2 separate regions of the Homo sapiens genome follow, and region 2 is linked to region 1. Evidence: fine-mapped expression QTL. A gene starts in region 1. The other region holds a variant in brackets. All regions are shown on one strand. Distances are from middle to middle.

Region 1 (5,322 bases):
TTTTAAAAACCAATTTCACCAGGTGACTTTTATAAATATTCAAAAAGCTCTCACTGAAGTCACTTAGGCTAGTGTGTCTTTCCAAATAGTTACCATTAAAAATAAAAGAACTGACAGAAATTCTGCCTCATATGTGAGACTTTTGTAAGGACTCAAATATAAAGTAATACTCTTCTGAGAGGTAGTAATTTGAGACGGAGTTTTAATTTAGGCATATATGGTATATCGGACTGGCCATTCTACATTAAAACTTTAAAGAAAAAAAAATGCAGAAAACAGTTCTTCATATTTTCTGTGAACTTTTTCCTATGCCTAGTAATACCATCAACTCTGAGGCATTCCAAGAAAGAACAATTTTCCAACTTACTCTCATTGCTTTCCAAATACACGCAATCTGTCATCATAGTTTTTTTTTTAATAAAGACAGTATCTTATATATCTGTCCTATTTTTATTCTCTTCCTAATTCTTTCCCATTTGCAGCACTATCCCTGATCATTGATCTTTATCATTGTAGCCAAAGTTGCTTGTTCTTCTCACTGTTCCAAATCCATTCTTGAATGGCTTCTTATACTATACAACCAAAATTTTCACCTAGTCATATCCTAAAACTTTCTACCACTATCTCAAAAATCTAATGGACAATGCTGCTATGAAAAAGAAGCAAATTTGACATTTAAGCCTTAAAAATATCAAAGTGTATTACTGCTCAGAGTACTTTAAGGACAAACAGGAAACCTGATGGGTACTATCTAGAAACAGGCTACATATTCCTTTTCTTTTCCATGCTTTTATTTTTTATTTATTTATTTATTTTGAGATGGAGTCTCACTCTGTCGCCCAGGCTGGAGTGCAGCGGGACCATGTCGGCTCACTGCAAACTCCATCTCCTGGGTTCAGGCAATTCTCCTGCCTCAGCCTCCCAAGTAGCTGGGATTACAGGCGCCCACCACCACGCCTGGCTAATTTTTTATATTTTTAGTAGAGACAGGGTTTCACTGTGTTGGCCAGGCAGGTCTCGAACTCCTGACCTCAGGTGATCCACCCGCCTCAGCCTCCCAAAGTGCTGGGATTTCAGGTGTAAGCCACCACGCCCGGCCTTCCATGCTTTTATAAAGTCTGAAATTATTATTAAATGGTGGTTATAGTCTATCAATGCAACTAGTTTATCACTTTAGAAGACTTCTGGGGCCAGAGAAGGCAAAAAAAAAAAAATCATTAACTATTAAAACAAAATTATAAGAATATGCAACAGAAATTAAATAACTTGAGTAATCTGCTTATCTATTTAAGTTCATGTTAGGCCTTAAAAAATTATATATATATAATTACCTCATCTACAGCCAGAATAAAAAAAAATCTTAAAAGAAACTATACTGGTAAAAAGAATTTGGATGGAAATAGCTCTAGAAAAACTAATACAACTTACAGACAGGTAAATTTCATAAGATATAATCTTACGTTTTATTAATTCAAACACTAATAGCTGCTATATGTAAACAGCTGGAGAAAAAAACCAAACTAGAAGAAATGAGTATTTCATGCTGTTTAGAAAAATGAAATAAATATGAAAGTAGTGATATATTAAAATATTTACTGTTTGATACCTCAAGCCTTTTAAGGGCAATATGAAGGAATTTCTAAAAATCAGTTTGCTTTATAACTTCAAAATAAAGTCCATGACTCAATGACAGCAGTTGATAGAGGTCAATTCTGATCAAGTTAAAGATCATATAGTGGGATGAAGTCTCCCAGACCTGGTCCATTACCAAGGCACAAAAGATACAGTTTCTCCAGATGTCAGGGGGGAAAATGACTTGGCACCGCATCACACACTTAAAATCCAATAGGGTTCCTTTAATGCAACACAGCACTGTGCGTCAAAGCATACCCTGGTGTAAAGGCAGTGAAATGGACAGAAACACCATTATTTGTGTTTCATTTCCTGAATGCCTTATAAACATGCACAACAAAATGCTCCTGATCCCCATCAGAGAGGATGAAAACAACCCAAATGTGCCCTTTCCACCTCCTCCCCTGGTATTGGTGCTTGCGCCTCAGCACTGAGGCTTGGAGTTGTCTTCTCAAACCATCATTGTCCGGTGGGAAATTCACCGAGAAAGGAAACGTGGGATAGGAAGTCTGTTACCAAAATAGAAATTAGTATTAAAAAGACCGATCCTACGCTCCCTCCACCCTCTCATACAAGACAAAATAAAAAAAACCTCCGTAAACTTGCCCTACCGTCACGAAGATCACACAAGCTCCGATCAAATGTGCTTCTCGATCATCTTTTAGGCAAGAGAGCGCTTGGGGTGCATTTTCGGCCCCTCATCTCCCACCCCCAGTCAAGCCAGGCCCCTGGACTGACAGGAAAGGCTGGCCGGACGTTGGCTCGGACGGGAAAGGCGGTTATTTTCGCCGAAGCCGCTCACGCTAAGGGTGAAGTAATGTAGGGCCAGAGGTAACACGGCTTAGGCTGTGGGCAAGGCCTCCGAACTGACTAAAGATAGGCAGGACACGGCAGCAGGGGAGGCGGGAGAAGCAGCCGGGCCTAGGCCGCACCAGGCCGCGGAGTGGCCCTACGCTGCTGCTTCCCGACCGAGGCTGCCAGCCAAGCCCCAGAGAAGAAGGTTATCATTACCTGGACGGGTTCCTGCAGCACCGTCATCCTCGAGGCTCAGGCCCACTTTCTGCAGTGCCTCAGGCCCCCCCTGTAGCGGCTCCGGCCCGGCCAGCCCCTGCTCATTTAAACTCACCAGCGACCGTTACCGGGGGATGGGGGAGGCCGAGCGATTGCCGAGTGCTTCCGAGCGGGACACGGGAATACCCGAAGTGGAGAAAGCCGAGCGGGAACCAGACGGAAAAGCCCGAAGGGAGTCGGAAATACCCGAGGTTGGTCGACGAGAGAGAAAACCGTTGCCGGAAATTGTCGAAGATTACCGGAAGCTACCGAGTCTGACCCAAAGCGTAGGTTTCTCTTCTCAGCCACGCCTTCAGCCACGCACACCACGCCCAATCGGCCGTCCCAGGGTTGGGCTACGCCAAATCTGCAACCAGCAGGCTGGGCGTGGCGTGACAGCGCGGGCGGGTAGCGTTACGTGGCGGGGCTGCAGTGTGGATTAGCCCCTCAGCCCTTTTGGATTAATTGGTGTGCTGTAGATTATGAAGCAAAGGGTGAAACAGCAGAGTTTGGGGCTGTCTTTAATGAATCAACAAGTATTTGTCTATTGAGTTTAGATCATTCGTCCATTCCAGAAGTATCTACTCACGGCTCTGGGGGAAAGCTAAAGAAATTTGGAAAGATTGCCACTCCCCAAAGACATAGGATAGCTTCTGTCTTCAAGGAGATTAAGGTCTATTTAAGGGAAAAGCAGTGTAACAGAGAACGCTATATTATATGGTGCCTATTATAAGTAATATAAAAATTCAGAGAGGGCAATTGTGATAAGATAAGGAAAGTTCTATGGAAGGAAAAAAAAGTTTAAAATGGAGTTTGAAGGATGGGTAAAATTAGAGGAAAAAGAAGTATAGGAAAGTGAAGGGAGGAAAAATGGGATCAGTCTGCTAAGAAGGCATTAATTGGAAATAGTTACTTAGGTGAAGAGATCATGGAAAAGCTCAATAGGCCATTAGAAATTTTTATTTTTGATAGGTGAGGCATTCCGCTGTGGTGGGAAGAGTAGGGGGTCGGAAATTCAGAGGCCTGGTTTTGAATTTTATCTTTAGCACTAACTAGTCATAGGTCCTTGGCAAATTACCTCTCTGAACTTATGTTCGCTTAGTTTGAAAAAAAAGGATTAAGAGAATTCGATGTATTATAAATGTGGCCGTGTCTAGCATGCAATGTAGACTCTCTCATATTTCCTTTCTGCTCCCCTTCTCCCCCCAAAAAGAGTGAACCAGGGGACTGTTTAAATTTTGTTTTTCAGCAGATGAGGAAACAGTTTTTGAAAGTTACTTTTCTAGTCAGGAGCTCTCTAGGCTAGATGTGAGAATCATGATATATTCCATTGCTTGGAAATTTCCCTTTGGGTGATGTTAGAGGGAGATATTTTTTCTTTCATTTTTAAAAACAAGGCTGACAGAGCTACACTGCATCCTTCTCCACCGCCTTGTCTTGTCACTGTATATATACTTATAGCCCCTAAAGGGCAGGTGCTAAGATGATTTTTGGCTGCCCTGTGCCCAGTTGCTTTAGCGGGATTATGCTGGATGACTTGAGTGGTAACAGACTTTTACACTGGCCTGGAAAGTAGCCATTAGCTATTTAAAGTTTAAGTTAAAATGAAATTAAAAATGAAGTTCTTCAGATGCCCTAGCCACATTCCAAGGATTCAGTAGCCCTGTATGTGGCTAGTGACTGCCATATTGGACAGTCACACAGATATAGAAGAACATCACCAGCACTGGCTTGGCTAGGGCTGAAAGATTCAAGATGGCTTCACTCACATGTCTAGGGTGTCAGTGGTAGCTATTGGCTGGGTCCTTCATTTCTTCTCTGCATGACCTCTCTTTTCACACTGGCCTCTTATGAGTCAGTAGTTTAGCTCCAGCTTCTTGACTTGGTGGTTGACAACAAAGTGCGCAAAAATAGAAGCTGTGAGGTCCCTTAGGCCTAGGCCTGTGAGCATCACTTCTTGTTGGTCAGAGTAAGACTCAGAGCCACCCTGGATTCACCAGGAGGAATAGTCTACTTCTTAATGGGAAGAGTGGCAAAGTAACACCACAAAGGGCGTGTGCCATGGGAGGAGTTTTTGGGTCATCTTTGGAAACAATCTACCACGCTAGATATGAGATGAGAGTATCTAAGATTGGGAATGGAAAGAAAGGGATAAGTAAGAGCTATCACTCTTAAAATGTGACCCTTTCAACTGAACACAGTACTCCAGATTTATTCTGAATAATTCAGAATGCAGTTGGACTATTATTATCTGGACACGTCTATTAAAGTGGACTACAGTTGTATTTACATTTTTTTTTTCCGAGACTGAGTCTTGCTCTGTTGCCCAGAGCTGGAGTGTAATGGCGCAATCTCGGCTGACTGCGTCCTCCGCCTCCGGGGTTCAAGCAATTCTCCTGTCTCAACGTCCCGAGTAGCTGGGATTGCAGGTGCGCACCACCACGCCCGGTTAATTTTTGTATTTTTAGTAGAGACGGGGTTTCACCATGTTGGCCAGGCTGGTCTCAAACTCCTGATCTCATGATCCACCCATCTCGGCCTCCCAAAGTGCTGGGATTACAGGTGTGAGCCACTGTGCCCAGCCTGTATTTACATTTTTTAGCAGTCACATGACACTGTTTGCTCATGCTAAACTTGTGT
Region 2 (5,382 bases), 190 kb before region 1:
GTCTCTCTACTCCTCAATTGAACCTTCTCTCCTTTCCCTCTCTCCTATAAAAATGACCCTTCAGTAGGTCATTTTCTCACTGACATGCTAACTTATGACTTGCAGCATCTGATGATACAACTTTGACCTGCTTTATAATCGTGGGTTTCAGGCAAGGTGGGAGGCCTTCCAAAGTCACCTTGAGAACCACAACTCTTTGGTGCCATCTGCAATCCTCCATATCAGCCCTGCAGATAACAGGGAACTATGGCTGCTGCCTCCCTGGAGTAGGACATTCTTTTAAAAAGATCTGGGAGCACTTTAGGAGGTTGAGGCGGGTGGATCATGAGGTCAGGAGTTTGAGACCAGCCAGACCAATGTGGTAAAACCCCGTCTCTACTAAAAATACAAAAATTAGCCGGGCGGGGTGGTGGGCACCTGTCATCCCAGTTACTTGGGAGACTGAGGCAGAAGAACCGCTTGAACCTAGGAGGTGGAGGTTGCAGTGAGCCGAGATGGTGCCACAGAACTCCAGTCTGGGCGACCTTCCTGCACTCCCGGTGTTCGGGGACCAACAAGGCGTAATAAGGAGCCAGAGACCAAGGCCCAAGTCTCAGCTCTAACTGAGTATTATGGGGGTATTAATGTCCACCTCCCAGGATAGGGAGCACAGAGCAAGGAATACTAAGTATTGAAGCCCTGAAACGCCCACTTCCTGTACCTGAGTCGCTGCTGTCCTCTAGTGGCCACTGGATAAATTGCACAGCACGCCGGCCTGAAAAAGCGGAAGTGAGAGATGCTTTTCCCCACTTCTGAATCTACCAGATGCTGGGGGGTTCTCAACCATGCTCCACTCATGACTTCCTTTTTATAAAATGTATTTTGTGTAATTACAGTAATTTTTGAACATTTTAGGCAGATTTATTGAGGTATTGACATATAATAAACTGCCTAGAGATTACAATTTGATAATATCTGAGCCTTAGTATACAGCTGAAATCATTATCACAATCAAGATAGTGAAGAAAGCCATCCTCCCAAAAAATTTCCTTGTTGCCCCTTGGTGATCCTGCTTCCTGCCCTTTCTACTTCCCTCTCACCCCCAAGCAACTACTGATCTGCTTTCTTTCTCTTCTCTTTTTTCCTTTTTTTTTTTTTTTTTTTTTTTGAGATGGAGTTTCACTCTGTCACCAGGCCGGAGTGCAGTGGTGAGATCTCGGCTCACTGCAACCTCCGCCTCCCAGGTTCAACAGATTCTCCTGCCTCAGCCTCCCGAGTAGCTGGGACTACAGGCACCTGCCACCACGCCCAGCTAATTTGTGTATTTTTAGTACAAATGTTGTATTTGTATTTGTATTTAGTACAAATGTTGGCCAGGCTGGTCTTGAACTCCTCGCCTCAAGTGATCCGCCCACCTCGGCCCCCCAAAGTGCTGGGATTACGGGTGTGAGCCACCACGCCTGGTCCTGATCTGCTTTCTGTCATCATAGGTTAGTTTATATTTTCTAGTGCTTTCTAGACACGGAATCATACAGTGTGTATTTTTTTGGTCAGGTTTCTTTCACTCACCATAATTATTTTGAGATGTATCCATGTTGCTTTGTGTGCCAATAGTTCATTACTTTTTAAATGTTTAATTGTAGTTTTTGTGGGTACATAGTAAGGGTATGTATTTCTGGAATACCTGAGATGTTTTGATACAGGAATGCAATGCATAATAATCACATCATGGAAAGTGGGGTATCCAGCCCCTCAAGCATTTATCCTTTGTGTTACAAACAATCCAATTATACACTCTTAATTATTTTTATTTTTATTTTTTTTTTTTAGTTTTTGAGACAGCGTTTCACTCTTCTTGCCCAGGCTGGAGTGCAATGGCGCTATCTTGGCTCACTGCAACCTCCGCCTCCTGGGTTCAAGCATTTCTCCTGCCTCAGCCTCCCAAGTAGTTGAGATTACAGGCACGTGCCACTAGGCCCAGCTAATTTTGTATTTTTAGTAGAGACAGGGTTTCACCAGATTGGTCAGGCTGGTCTCAAACTCCTGACCTCAGGTGATCCACCTGCCTCGGCCTCCCAAAGTGCTGGGATTACAGGCATGAGCCACCACGCCTGGCCATTAGTTATTTTTAAATATACAATTAAATTATTATTGATTATTGCCAGCCTATTGTGCTCTCTAACACTAGGTCTTATTCATTCTTTTTTTTTTGTACCCATTAACCATCCCCACCTCCCCACATTACTTTTTATTGCTGAGTTCTGTTCCATTGTATGAATGTACCACAATTTGTTATTCATTCAGAATGATAGTAATTTTAAAAATCAATATAATGCCCTAACTAGAACATACAACAGAAACTAACTCAAAGACGAGTTCTGTATAAAAGCTCAAGGAAGCTGGGTGTGATGGTTCACAACTGTAATCCTAGCACCAAGGCAAGTGGATCACTTGAGGCCAGGAGCTCGAGACCAGCCTGGGCAACAGAGCCCCCCGACCCCCCCAACTTCTACAAATATTTTTAAAAATTAGCCAGGCTTGGTGGTCCAGGTCTGTAGTCCCAGCTACTCAGGAGGCTGAGGCAGGTAGATCACTTAAGGCCGGAAGGAAATTTGAGGCTTCAGTGAGTCGTGATGGTGCCACTGCACTCCAGCCTGGACAATAGAGACT[CA/C]AAAAAAAAAAAAAAAAAAAAAGCTCAGCCATGACCACCCTGACCCTGACCACTCTGGAACATACAATGATACAGTCGGGCACTTATATACTATACATGTACTAGCTGCGAGTACAGCCAGGCAGAGGTGGGGCAGATGAGCACATCAACTACTAGCACCACTGTCCTGGACATCACACAACAGGGGGGCAGGGCTGGGCTTTGAGCCCAGGTTTGTTTGGCTCTGAAGCCCAGTGGCTGGCCACTCCATGCAGGAGGGTACAGTGCTCTGTCGCCCAATGCATGGGGACTGGTGTTGAGCAGAGAAGATGGACATGGGCAGATTTTAGCTGGATGGAAGGATGCGTTTCTCACAGGGCTGACCATTGGGGTAGCATGTTCTTTTTTTAATTACGTGGATGGCGTGTTTGGGCTGGCTCACCCTGGGATTTCTCCCATCCAGCCATGACCCAGACTCATTCACTAAGGTCTATATTTGCCTTTTTTTTTTATTATACTTTAAGTTCTAGGGTACACGTGCACAATGTGCAGGTTTGTTACATATGTATATATGTGCCATGTTGGTGTGCTGCACCTATTAACTTGTCATTTACATTAGGTATACTGCCTAATGCTTTCCCTTCCCCCTTCCTCCACCCCACAACAGGCCCCGGTGTGTGATATTCCCCTTCCTGTGTCCATGTGTTCTCGTTGTTCAATTCCCACCTATGAGTGAGAACATGCAGTGTTTGGTTTTTTGTTCTTACGATAGTTTGCTGAGAATGATGGTTTCCAGCTTCATCCATGTCCCTACAAAGGACATGAACTTATCCTTTTTTATGGCTGCATAGTATTCCATGGCGTATATGTGCCACATTTTCTTAATCCAGTCTATCATTGATAGGCATTTGGGTTGGTTCCAAGTCTTTGCTATTGTGAATAGTGCCACAATAAACATACATGTGCATGCGCCTTTATAGCAGCATGATTTATAATCCTTTGGGTATATACCCAGTAATGGGATGGCTGTGTCAAATGGTATTTCTAGTTCTAGATCCTTAAGGAATCGCCACAGTGTCTTCCACAATGGTTGAACTAGTTTACCTTTTTAAAGGTATGTTTGTATTTCACTCACTTTGCATTTCACGGTAACCCAATCCAGGGGCTTTTCCCTGGCACTTCCCACAGCACAGACATATGCTCCTTCCTTGCCTGCTGCCCTCAGGGGCCAGCAGCAGGGGTGGCACTGCACAGTCCCACTGGGGGCCTCCCTCAGGGCAGAATATAATTTTATGGAAGAAAGTGTCTAGCAATGCTTTCTTGAGACAGGGTCTTGCTCTGTCACCCAGGCTGGGGAGTGCAGTGGTGCAATCATAGGTCACTGCAGCCTTGACCTCCTGTGCTCAAGTGATCCTCCCACCTCAGCCTTCCAGGTAGCTGGAACTATAGGCACACACCACTATGCCCCGCTAATTTACTTTATTTTTTGTAGAGACAGCGTCTCACTATGTTGCCCAGGCTGGTCTTGAACTCTTGTGCTCAAGGAATCCTCTCGCCTCAACCTCCCAAAGTGTTGGGATTATAGGCGTGAGCCACTGCACCTGGCCCATAGCAATGCTTTTGAGACAACAAGATTTTAAAACCTGCTACTGTAAGACAATCAGTCATATTTACCTTCTGGGGTAATTTACCTACTGTGTTATTACTGAAGGAGTCTCTTGGTTGGTGGTAACCCCTTAGCTTCAGAGTGGCCTGTCCTTGCAAGGAAACTTTGAAGAATTTAGTCCAATATTAGTGTTACAGAGAAGGACCCAAGGTCCATAGGAAGTGGAATGTAATACACAAGTTCTCCAGTCACTTCCTAACTCTGTTTTTAACATCTCACCCCAACAGTTTCCCCTGGATCCAAGTAAATGTGTAAGTCACGCTTTTATTCTTAAGCTTTGCTTCTTCCTGTTTTCCTTGGAAATGTTTTCCTCTGCTCCTTATAACTTTTTGTGTTGAATGCTCAGTTCATTTATTTTGTTTTATTTATTGGATTTTTGGTTTTGGTTTTTAGTCCCCTTTCCCCTCCTCTGTTGCTCACAGTGCAGACAACTTTGTGCAGTGGAAACAGTGCAGTCTTTGAGGCCCGAAAGTCTTTTGTTTTGATTCTTGGTTCAGCTTCCCGTGAGCAACTGTTAAGTCTGTTTTTTCGTATGTAAAAGGAAGGCAGTGATAGCCCTCTGCAGTGTTTTTTGAGGGTTAAATGGGATCGTGGTATGTAAGGAACATTGCGCAGTGCCTGATACATGGCAGATGCTCATCGGATTCCTGTCTCCTGATTGTTTCCCACCCTCCACATTTACAATGCCCACCTAGTTAATAAAACAAGCAAAACCTCATGGTTTCTTTTTTCTTTTGTGTCATTTATATTAGTACTTCTTGCTGTAATGTCACAGTGCACGAGCTGAGAGGTAAGTTGCCAGGAATAAGACGGGGACATAGCATAGAATAGCTATTAAAATGGGGGATTCTGGAGTCTGGCTGCTTCTTTCTGTCCCAGGCTTCTCCACAGACCAGCTGGATTAAGAAAATAGCATCAAAGCCTCAGGATCCTGCTATTTTGTTTTATTGGAACAAAAGCAGTTAAGACAATGAATTTACTTCTAAGTATAGCTTTGGTTAAATTGTAGACACTGATATGTAATGCTGTCTTTCTCATTGTTTTAGAAACCTGCTATTTAAAAATCTTTTTAATTTATTTTGTGAGA

Alleles and levels. Alleles are on the strand shown, and positions count from the first base shown. SD is a standard deviation of normalised expression in the study named.
For the expression in skeletal muscle of the gene that starts at base 2,793 in region 1, allele CA in region 2 goes with a lower level than allele C (moderate effect, 0.70 SD a copy in FUSION).

The links. PIP is the estimated chance that this variant, and not a neighbour inherited with it, causes the effect. A credible set is the group of variants that fine-mapping cannot tell apart.
Region 2: its variant is the best candidate, but not a certain one, in a credible set for the expression of CDC27 in skeletal muscle (FUSION, PIP 0.70).

The regions. Positions count from the first base shown.
Region 1 is chr17:47,186,503-47,191,824 of GRCh38, forward strand. It overlaps CDC27 (cell division cycle 27), which reads right to left and starts at 2,793. Exons shown (of 19, transcript NM_001256.6): 1 at 2,644-2,793. The coding sequence starts at 2,670. It also overlaps a transcript of MYL4 not described here. RefSeq lists a silencer at 2,318-2,367 and enhancers at 2,401-2,997, 2,528-2,717.
Region 2 is chr17:47,000,594-47,005,975 of GRCh38, forward strand. All of the region lies in intron 6 of LOC101927060 (a long non-coding RNA gene), which reads right to left. It also overlaps a transcript of LRRC37A2 not described here. Among named protein-coding and RNA genes, the nearest start is that of RPRML, 24 kb to the left of the region's middle. RefSeq lists a silencer at 4,610-4,904. The variant CA/C (reference allele first, on the strand shown) is at 2,650.